Linked DNA regions of Homo sapiens: region 2 is linked to region 1. Evidence: fine-mapped expression QTL. A gene starts in region 1. The other region holds a variant in brackets. All regions are shown on one strand. Distances are from middle to middle.

Evidence for each region. PIP is the estimated chance that this variant, and not a neighbour inherited with it, causes the effect.
Region 2: its variant is the best candidate, but not a certain one, in a credible set for the expression of TCTN3 in whole blood (INTERVAL, PIP 0.65).

Annotation. Positions count from the first base shown.
Region 1 is chr10:95,690,683-95,696,065 of GRCh38, reverse strand. It overlaps TCTN3 (tectonic family member 3), which reads left to right and starts at 2,139. Exons shown (of 14, transcript NM_015631.6): 1 at 2,139-2,422; 2 at 2,590-2,713; 3 at 3,028-3,146. The coding sequence starts at 2,167. It also overlaps a transcript of ENTPD1 not described here. RefSeq lists enhancers at 1,179-1,680, 2,155-2,434.
Region 2 is chr10:95,825,086-95,830,468 of GRCh38, reverse strand. All of the region lies in intron 2 of ENTPD1 (ectonucleoside triphosphate diphosphohydrolase 1), which reads right to left. All of the region lies in intron 4 of ENTPD1-AS1 (ENTPD1 antisense RNA 1), which reads left to right. Among named protein-coding and RNA genes, the nearest start is that of ENTPD1, 72 kb to the right of the region's middle. The variant A/G (reference allele first, on the strand shown) is at 2,232.

The DNA.
Region 1 (5,383 bases):
AAATTCAGAAATAATTTAACACTATTTGAGAGTTGCCATTTAAATTCCAAACTTTGAAATCTAAAATAGTCTCTGATCAGATGTACAATGGAAATTTTATAGAAAGATCATTACATGGTAAATTGGTTGCAAAAAGAAGAAATTTTATAGAAAGAAATACAATCCTGAAATAAAATAAACTAAAAATATTCCTAAGGATTAATTCTAAAGAGTTCAACAAAACAATTTTTAATATATTTTTAAAATATTTAATGCACATCTAACATGTCCCAGACACTGTTCTAGGCATGGGGATATTTCAATGAACAAAACAGACAAAACTCACTATTTTTGGAATTTACATTCTAGTATATACATATGATCATATAATCTGAATAATATGAACTTGGCCTTTTCCTATAGAAATTACTAATAAGGTAAATAAATGTTTTAAGACCAAACACATATCTCCCATAGCTGTCTATCACACAACAACATAAAAACATATTTGAAAATATTTATAACACAGAGAGACTTTTAGCTACTGACTTCAAAACATTAGAAAATAAAGATCTTGTAAGAGAATTCAAGTAAAGTCAAATGTCCTAAAACTTACCTGAGTTAAATGATTCACTTGTAAAGGGAGGTGTTGACCAGATTTTAGGTAAGTGTACTAGATTTTAGATAACTCTTAACAGATGTTAATTTATATACTAAAACTAAATATCCAAAATAATCCAGATGTCAGAACCGTGGACATAGGAAAATACTGGGTCTAGGAGGAGCAATATTTTGATCATCTACAGTCCCACTGTACAATATGGTAGCTACTCACGTCTGTGGTTAACTTTGAATTAATTACAATTTAAAAATTAAAAATTCAGGCCAGGCACAGCGACTCACAGCTGTAATCCCAGCACTTTAGGAGGCCAAGGCGGGAGGGTCACTTGAGGTCAGGAATTCGAGACCAGCCTGGACAACATGGTGAAACCCCATCTCTACTAAAAATAAAAATAAAATTAGCCGGGCGTGGTGGCGCGTGCCTGTCATCCCAGCTACTCAGGAGGCTGAAACAGAAGAATCACCTGAATCCTAGAGGCAGAGGTTGCAGTGAGCTGAGATCACACCACTGCACTCCAGCCTGAGCGACAGAGCGAAACACCGTCTCAAAAAAAAAAAAAAAAAAAAAAATCAGCTCCTCAGTCACGCTAGCCACATTTCAAGCGCACAATTGCCACATAAGGCCGGTGACTACCATGCTGGACAGTGCAGCTACGGTACATTTCCAATACCGAAGGAAAGTCCCATGGCCCGCGCTGCTGTGGGGAATCGGAAGAGGCACGCCATTCCCGGGAAGAACAAAAACCTCCTAGAGAGGCTTAAAAAATTTGCCATTAACACGGGGAAAAAAATCTTCTATTTCCATTCCTCCATCTTATTTTCTCACCTCCTAGACAATGTTTCTTTTTTTTATTCTTTCTCTCCCTATTTTCTCACATTTTTCCTGCCCTTTTTTCTTATTTTTCTCTCACTGCTTTTTCTAACAACAAACATGCAGTCCATCTTTAATGATTTGATGCATTTCTTTAGGGTTTTCAAAATTTCTCAATGTTAAAATGTAAGGAGCTGAATGAACATTATTTCTAATGTGTTTTTTTTTTTTTTAAAAAAGCCATATTTAGAGGAGACTGTTTTTTAAGGTATGTGACCTTAGGTGTGTTTCCCCCACCTGAGAACATTATTCTTCCATAGAAAGGGTTTCTCACCGTTGGAATCCGGGGTGAAAAAAAATTTGCAATTCTAGTTCCGGCCTCTGGGGTTTCCTTGCACCGGAGGCCGGGCTCAGTCCTCTGGGCCGCGAAGTGGGCGCGGAACCTCTCGGTCCGCCGAACTCCTACCGCCACCTAGCGGAAGGAAGGCGCAAGGGCTTCTTCGTCACTGACGGTTGCCAGGCAACGGAGGCACGGCCCGGCCCGCGTTAAGGAGGAGGGCGCAGACCGAAGGACACTGAAAGAGCTGTAACAACCCCACTTTCGATTGGTTGAAGAGCTCTCAGCCTTCTCATGAGCCAATGAGAAGAGGCACGCGGATGGCGTCAGACGCTATGCGACTCCTCCCACCCACGCTCTGGCAATGCGATTGGAGACCGCGGAGGCCTACGTCGGACCCGGAGGCCCTGAATGCCCCATGCGCACCCCACAGCTCGCGCTCCTGCAAGTGTTCTTTCTGGTGTTCCCCGATGGCGTCCGGCCTCAGCCCTCTTCCTCCCCATCAGGGGCAGTGCCCACGTCTTTGGAGCTGCAGCGAGGGACGGATGGCGGAACCCTCCAGTCCCCTTCAGAGGCGACTGCAACTCGCCCGGCCGTGCCTGGACTCCCTACAGTGGTCCCTACTCTCGTGACTCCCTCGGCCCCTGGGAATAGGACTGTGGACCTCTTCCCAGGTGAGGGAAAACGTTGTGGGGGTGGAAACTTACTTCTGAGATCTAAAATTCTGTGAGCAAAGTTGAGCTGCCACAAAGCAGGAGTGGGGCTGTCGGAAGAAGGAGGGTGAGCACCTGGGAGAGTTTGGGGATCTTCATCCCACTCACTCTGTGTCGTACTTTCATAGTCTTACCGATCTGTGTCTGTGACTTGACTCCTGGAGCCTGCGATATAAATTGCTGCTGCGACAGGGACTGCTATCTTCTCCATCCGAGGACAGTTTTCTCCTTCTGCCTTCCAGGCAGCGTAAGGTGAGCTTCGTTGCTCAGACTGAATCCTAAAGGGGTTTGGGGCCTACAACGGGTAACATTTGGATGTAAGAAGAGTTAGTCTTTGTGCCTCCCACCCGTACTTCCACTCCTAGGACATTCCCTTGGTTTTTCCTAGGAATTGCCTTTTCTGATTCTCTAGAGCAGGGCTGGCCAGTAGAATAAGACCTTCGTGTCGTCCTATAGGTGCCCAAGGAGTCCTCTTTGGCATCATCTGGCCGATATTGCTGGGACACTCTTTTTTGGACCTGCCCCGCCCCTTCTAAATATATCTTCTCCCTCCTCTTTCCTCACAGGTCTTCAAGCTGGGTTTGTGTAGACAACTCTGTTATCTTCAGGAGTAATTCCCCGTTTCCTTCAAGAGTTTTCATGGATTCTAATGGAATCAGGCAGTTTTGTGTCCATGTGAACAACTGTGAGTAGAAACATGTTGGTTGTTCTCATTTTCTAACACAGGAGTGTTATATTTTGTCTTCCCTGGCCCACATTGGAAGAAGAATTGTCTTGGGCCACACGTAAAATACACTAACGATAGCTGATGAGTTAAAAACAACAACAAAAAAAAAGCAAAAAAAATGTCAAATGTTTTAAGAAAGTTTACAAATTTGTGTTGTTGGGCTGCATTCATAAGCCGTCCTGGGCTGCATGCGGCCGGTGGGTTGCAGGTTGGACAAGCTTGGTCTAACATTTATTGAGAATTGGCTTTTATTCTGGCCTTTTTTCCATTTCTTTTTTTTAAACTTTTTTTTTTTTTGTCCTTTGAATCTCTACGCCTCTTTCTGCCTCTTCTCTCTTATTACGGAATACATTTGCATTTTTGTTTTTTTTTGAGACGGAGCCTCCACCTATCGCCAGGAGTGCAGTGCAGTGGCACGATCTCAGCTCACTGCAACCTCCACCTCCCGGATTAAAGTGATTCTCCTGCCTTAGCTTCCCGAGTAGCTGGGACTATGGGTGTGTGCCACCATGACCAGCTAATTTTTGTATTTTTAGTAGAGACGGGGTTTTGCAATGTTGGCCAGGATGGTCTTGATCTCTTGACCTCATGGGCCACCCACCTCGACCCCCAAAGTGCTGGGATTACAGGTGTGAGCCACCGCGCCTGGCCACATTTGCAACTTTTTATGTTCTGTTGGCTATGGATCAGAAAACTCATAAAGAACTTTAATTTCAATCATTTTAATCATTCCTCTTAACTCAGATAATCACAGATAGACTATATTCCCCACTTACTACAATCTCCATGAGGGTACTAACTGAATCCCCAGTGCCTAACACATAGTAAGCACCAAATAATGTTTGAATGAACATCTTTGACAAATGAGTCTATGCCAACCTTATTTTCATTTCATGAGGCAACAGTGTAGGAGGAGCATTAGATTAGGATCTCAGTCCTGCCATTTCCTTACCAGCTATACAGACTTGGGCAAATCCCTTAGCATTTCCAGGCTCGTTTCTTCAACTGTAAAGTGAGAAATAATATCATTGGCTTTGTATATGAAAGCGCTCTACAACTGTAGAGTACAATAAAGATTAGAGGTTATTATTATTGGGGATGGTTAGTGGACTTAGAAATTTGCTGGTGATGGCTATAACATTTCTAAAGATATGAAGCTAATCTATCTTTTTAAAATGTCTATGAAGCAAAATAATGTTCCTGCACAAAATGGATTTAAATGTCTCTTGCATCCTGGAAGTCACCTCATCCTGATTTCATCTGACTGTTAATAAGAATTGCAAAACTATATTTGTCTCAGAAAACAACCAGTTTTTGGTTTTGGGGGACTTGAATTTCAAAGCAGTTATCAGAAGCCTTGTGGTTATTTAGATGGTAATAGGGTAAAGGGAACAAGATGAATACTTCATTTTCAGATAAGGTTGTGGCCTGACGCGGTGGCTCACTCCTGTAATCTTAGCACTTGGGAGGCTGAGGTGGGCAGATCACTTGAGGTCAGGAGTTTGAGACCAGCCTAACCAACATGGTGAAACCCTGTCTCTACTAAAAAAACAAAAAATTATCCAGGCATGGTAGTGGGCACCTGTAATCTCAGCTAGTTGGGAGGCTGAGGCAGGAGAATCATGTGAGCCTGGGAGGCTGAGATTGCACCACTGCACTCCAACCTGGGTAACAGAACGAGAGTCTGTCTCAAAAAAAGAAAGTTGTCTCTTCTTTTCCAAACATTTTACTGCCTTTTAAATCCAGCCTTATGATCATGCTCCAGGGTTATTGCAATGGCACCTACCTGGTGCTCCCTGCTTTTGATCCCCACTCCTGCCCCCGACACCATCCTGCACACTCCTTCGGGATCAGTGGATCTGAACTTTCTTTAAACACCTGAGGGAGGAATATGGCCACTTCCAATAGTAGTTATGGTTCATTACATCAATGAACTTTTTCCTGAACGAGGGTGGGGTGTACATTCATGTTTAGTATGAAAAAGGCAAAAATTTCCCTTTGGTTCTGATTATTTACCTACCTTCCTCACATATACACACATAGCATCTACACACAGTATACACAGTTGTGGAGAATCATTTCACTAGATAAATCTTTCCATAACATTGCATTATGTTGCTTCCTTACTGAGAAACCTCCATTACTTCCCACTATCCATAAAATAACATCCAGCTTCTTAGCCAGCCTGTCAGATC
Region 2 (5,383 bases), 130 kb before region 1:
TTGACCTGAGATGGGGCCCAGCCATATTTTTGAAAAGCTCCTCAGGTGCTTCTAACATGGATCCAAGCTTGAACACCACTGCAGTTTAATGGATGAGATGCCCACTTTTAAGCCAAAAATACTAAGCTCAGACTTGGACCTCCTCTTCCACCTCTCCTTCCTGCCCCCATATTCAACAATCTAACCATACTGAGCTGCTGATTCCCCAGGGATTGCATATGATTTCAAGCTGTCACTCTTCAACACATGATATAATCTTTGTCTGGAACATGTCCTATCCCACTTTCTAGAAAACTCCTTACCATTTGTCTTAGTCCATTCTCTGTTGCTATCACTGAATACTTGATACTGGGTAATTTATTTAAAAAATAAATGTATTTCTTACAGTTCTAGAAGCTATGAAGTCCAAGGTCAAGAGGCAACATCTCAGGAGGGCCTTCTTGCTGGTGGGGACTCTCTGCAGAGTCCCGAGGTGGCACAGGGCATCACATGGCAAAGGGGGCATACTGAGAGCCAAACTAGCTTTTAATACAGACCTACTCTAATAATAACTAACCCACCCTGTGATAACTCAATCCATTTATCCATGAATGGATTAATCCATTCATGAGGTCAGAGCCCTCATGACCCACCACCTCTTAAAGGCCCTGCCTCTTAATACTATTATACTGGGGATTAAGTTTCAACATGAGTTTTGGAGGGATCAAACATTCAAGCCATAGCACTTAAGACTCAGCTCCAAGGCTACCTTCTCTGTGAAGCCTCCATGTAAACAGGCACAATTAGCAGCTTCTTTCTCTGGGCTTCCATAGCACTGTCTCTGCATGAATATATCTCTATTATATTGAAATTATTTGTACGAAGAACCCTCACCTCCACAAAAATCAGGAGGTGCAATGATACTTCAGATACCTCTTGTGACCATTTTACATCTTGGCCAACTTTTTACTCCAGCCCCAGCAGTATCTCCTTATCTCTCTATTTCTGCCCAGCAGCTTCTCTCCTGCTGCCTAAGTTGTCACCTGTGGTACCCACATGACCCCTCTGACACACGTGCAAACCTGGAAGTGACAGGGACTTAACACCAGATGGGAGCAACCCTTGACCAACAGATAATGAGAACCAGGGGATAAATCCCCAGGGCAGACAATTCTAAAGTTCACTCTCCACAGCTCTTGAGAGGGTCCCTGGGAGGATCAAGCCTCAGTGGCCCAATGTGGTAATTTGCTCCTAACTCTCTCTTTCCCTTCTTCCTTGTTTCCTTGGAATCACTTCCCAAAATAAACATCCTGCATGCAATTTCTGTTAATAGGATGTGCTGTTTGGAAAAACTCACTAAGACAAATGGAAAGAACATTAGTCTTTGGATCAGAAAACTGGATTCTAGTTTTAGCTCCCCCTCTGCCTTGGGTGAGAGAACATCTAAGGCTTTGATTTTGTTATCTATAAAATGGGCATGGCCAGGTGCGATGGCTCATGCCTGTAATCCCAGCACTTTGGGAGGCCGAGGCGGGCAGATCAACTGAGGTCGGGAGTTCAAGACCAGCCTGACCAACATGGAGAAACCCCGTCTCTAGTAAAAATACAAAAATTAGCCGGGTGTGGTGGCGTGTGCCTATAATCCTAGCTACTCAGCAGGCTGAGGCAGGAGAATTGCTTGAACCTGGGAGGCAGAGATTGCGGTGAGCCGAGATCATGCCACTGCGCTCCAGCCTGGGCAACAAGAGCAAAACTCCGTCTCAAAAAAAAAAAAAAAAAATGGGGATAACCTTCTATTCTTCACAGTATTCACGGGAAGAAAAAATGGAAATGCATGTGGAAATGATTTATAACTGCAAAGCACTAAATAATGTTATCATTATGCCTTAGGAGGAATTCTTTCCCTATTCACCCTTTAAATCAGTGGTCTCCAACCTTTTTGACACCAGGGACCAGTTTCTTGGAGGACAATTTTTCCACAGACCCAGAGGTGGTGAGGAGGGGGAAATGGTTTTGGGATGATTCAAGTGCATTACACTTATTGTGAACTACCTTATTTCTATTTTTATTACATTGTAATACATAATGAAATAATTACACAACTCACCATAATGTAGAATCAATAGGAGGCCTGAGCTTGTTTTCCTGCAACTAGACAGTCCCATACGGGGGTAACGGGAGACAGTGACAGATCATCCGGCATTAGATTCTCACAAGGAGCACGCAATCCCGATCCTACATATGTGCAGTTC[A/G]CAATAGGGTTCGCGGTCCTATAAGAATCTAATGCTGCCACTGATCTGACAGGAGATGGAGCTCAGGCAGTAATGTGGGCGATGGGGAGCAACTGTAAATACAGATGAAGCTTTGCTCGCTCGCGTGTTCCTCACCTCCTGCTGTACTGGTCCATGGCCTGGGGGTTGGGGACCCCTGCTTTAAATGATAGAGCTTCTCAGGACTTGGACCTTGACTCTCTTCTCATTTTATAACCCCATCCTAGATGACCTCATCCATTTCTAAGGCTTCAGTCAATCAATGCCATCAGAGACATAGCTTTAATCTAGGCCTGTGCTATTTAACCAGGGTAACAAATAGCTGGCAATTGAGCACTTGAAATGTGACTAGTTGGAATTGAGATATGCCATAAGTTAAAATTTGAAGATAGTATGAAAAAAGAATGTAACATATCTCATTAACAATTTTTTTTTGGCCGGGCATGGTGGTGGCTCATGCCTGTAATCCCAACACTTTGGGAGGCCAAGGTGGGCAGATCATGAGGTCAAGAGATGGAGACCATCCTGGCCAACAAGGTGAAACCCCGTCTCTACTAAATACAAAAATTAGCTGGGCATGGTGGCACGTGCCTGTAGTCCCAGCTACTCAGGAGGCTGAGGCAGGAGAATTGCTTGAACCCGAGAGGCAGAGGTTGTAGTGAGCTGAGATCGCACCACTGCACTCCAGCCTGTGCTACAGAGCGAAACTCCGTCTCAAAAAACAAACAAAACAAAACAAAACAAAAACGAAATTTTTTTTTTTTTGAGACAGAGTCTTGCTCTGTCACCCAGGCTAGAGTGTAGTGGCGTGATCTTGGCTCACTGCAACCTTCACCTCCCAGGTTCAAGGGATTCTCCTGCCTCAGCCTCCCAAGTAGTTGGGACTATAGGTGCCTACCACCACGCCCGGCTAATTTTTTTTGTATTTTTAGTAGAGACGGGATTTCACTATGTTGGCCAGGCTGGTCTTGAACTCCTGACCTCGTGATCCACCCACCTCAGCCTCCCAAAGTGCTGGGATTACAAGTGTGAGCCACCGCGCCCAGCCAACAATTATTTATTTTGATGAAATGTTGAGGTAATATTTTGGATGCATTGGGCCACATAAATTATATTATTAAAATTAATTTCACCTCTTTTCTTCTACTTTCTAAAATGTAGCTCTTTGAAAATTTAAAATTTGGCTTGTTTTATATTTTTATTGAGCACAGCAGTAGATATCTGCTTAGAAAAGAAAGGTCCAAATCTGATTATCCAACTGCTTTCTTGACATTTCCCATTGGCTTTCCAACACTCAAAACAATTCTTCAAAAATTGAACCCAAAGGCTCCCCCTCCTTCCACATTTTTCTTGTAGCCTCTTCCTGGTATCCTCCTATATCTCATCCTCCTCTAATTCATTGAAATCAGAGTGATCTTTGCAAAAACAAATCTGATCATACCACTAGCTTCCCACTACTCTTAGGATTAAAACTGAAATCCTCAACCTGTCTTGCAGGGCCTGCACCACGTACCTCCCCATCTTTATATAACACGTGGCCCACTCCTGCTCTCCAACTAGTTCCTAGGAGATATCCAACTCCTTCTTGTTTCAGGACTCTTGCACCTGCTTTCCTTCTGCCTGGAATTTTTTTTTTTTTTTTTTTTTTGAGTTGGCGTCTCACTCTGTAGCCCAAGCTAGAGTGCAGTGGCAGATCTTGGCTCACTGCAACCTCCGCCTCTGGGGCCCAAGTGATTCTCGCACCTCAGCTTCCTGAGTAGCTAGGATTACAAGTACGCGCCACCATACCAAGCTAATTTTTTGTATTTTAGTAGAGATTGGGTTTCACCATGTTGCCCAGGGTGGTCTCAAGCTCCTGAGCTCAGGCAATCTGCCCACCTCGGCCTCCCAAACTGCTTCGATTACAGGCATGAGCCACCGTGCTCGGCCCTGCCTGGACTACCCTTTACCTATGTCTTTCCCAGCTAACTTCCAATCATTCTTCAGATATTATTTTAGTATCATTTTTTCAGGGAAGACTTGCCTGGCCCCAAAACTTTCATTTGGTGGCAATTTATCATAATTACAATTAATAATTTGTGTTATTAAATATGTTTGCTTCCCCAGATGGTAAGCTCAGTCATATCTATATACTGCCTTCCCTATTGTGTAGCCCAGTGCCTAACACAGACAATGAATATTTTTTATTTTACTTTTTTTGAGACAGAGTCTTACTCTGTCAGCCAGACTGGAGTGTAATAAATAATTGTCGATGCATAAATTTATAAAAAATGAATGAAGAACTGCTGAATGAAGTATGGTCATAAAGTCATGTCATTGTGTGCTCTCAAAACACATGTATCAGCCGGGCACGGTGGCTCACGCCTGTAATCCCAGCATTTTGGGAGGCTGAGGCAGGCAGATCACAAGGTCAGGAGATCAAGACCATCCTGGCTAACATGGTGAAACCCCGTCTCTACTAAAAATACAAAAAAATTAGCCGGGCGTGATGGCGGGCACCTGTAGTCCCAGCTACTTGGGAGGCTGAGGCAGGAGAACGACGTGAACCCAGGAGGTGGAGCTTTCAGTGAGCCGAGATCGTGCCACTGCACTCCAGCCTGGGCGACAGAGCGAGACTCCATCTTGAAAAAGAAACAAACAAAAACCCCAAACAAAGAAACAAAAAACAAACAAACAAACAAAAAACATGTATCAGTACAAATATCCAAATAAGTGTTATCTTTTAAATGGTCATTTTTGGAAGCAAATACATTTATTTCAATAAACTACTCAAACCAGTTTAGTAGCCCATGATATTTGGGATGATCCTGGTACTAGTTTACAAACCATGCAAGAAAAAAAGTTTTTTTGTTTCTTATTCTAGATTTTATAAAATGTTTTATCATACACCCTATTCATTAAACTTAGTTTTGAATGACTTCAGAGTTATCATTCAAGAGTATGCTTTAAAGTGGCAATGTCCAATAGAACTTTCTACAGCAAGGCAATATTCTATATCTGTGTTGTCCAATACAGTAGCCACCAGCCATGTATGGCTATTGAGCACTTGAAATGTGGCTAGTGCAACAGAGGGACAGAATTTTTAATTTTATTTAATTTTAATTGACAAGCTTAAAGAGCTGCATGTGGCTAGT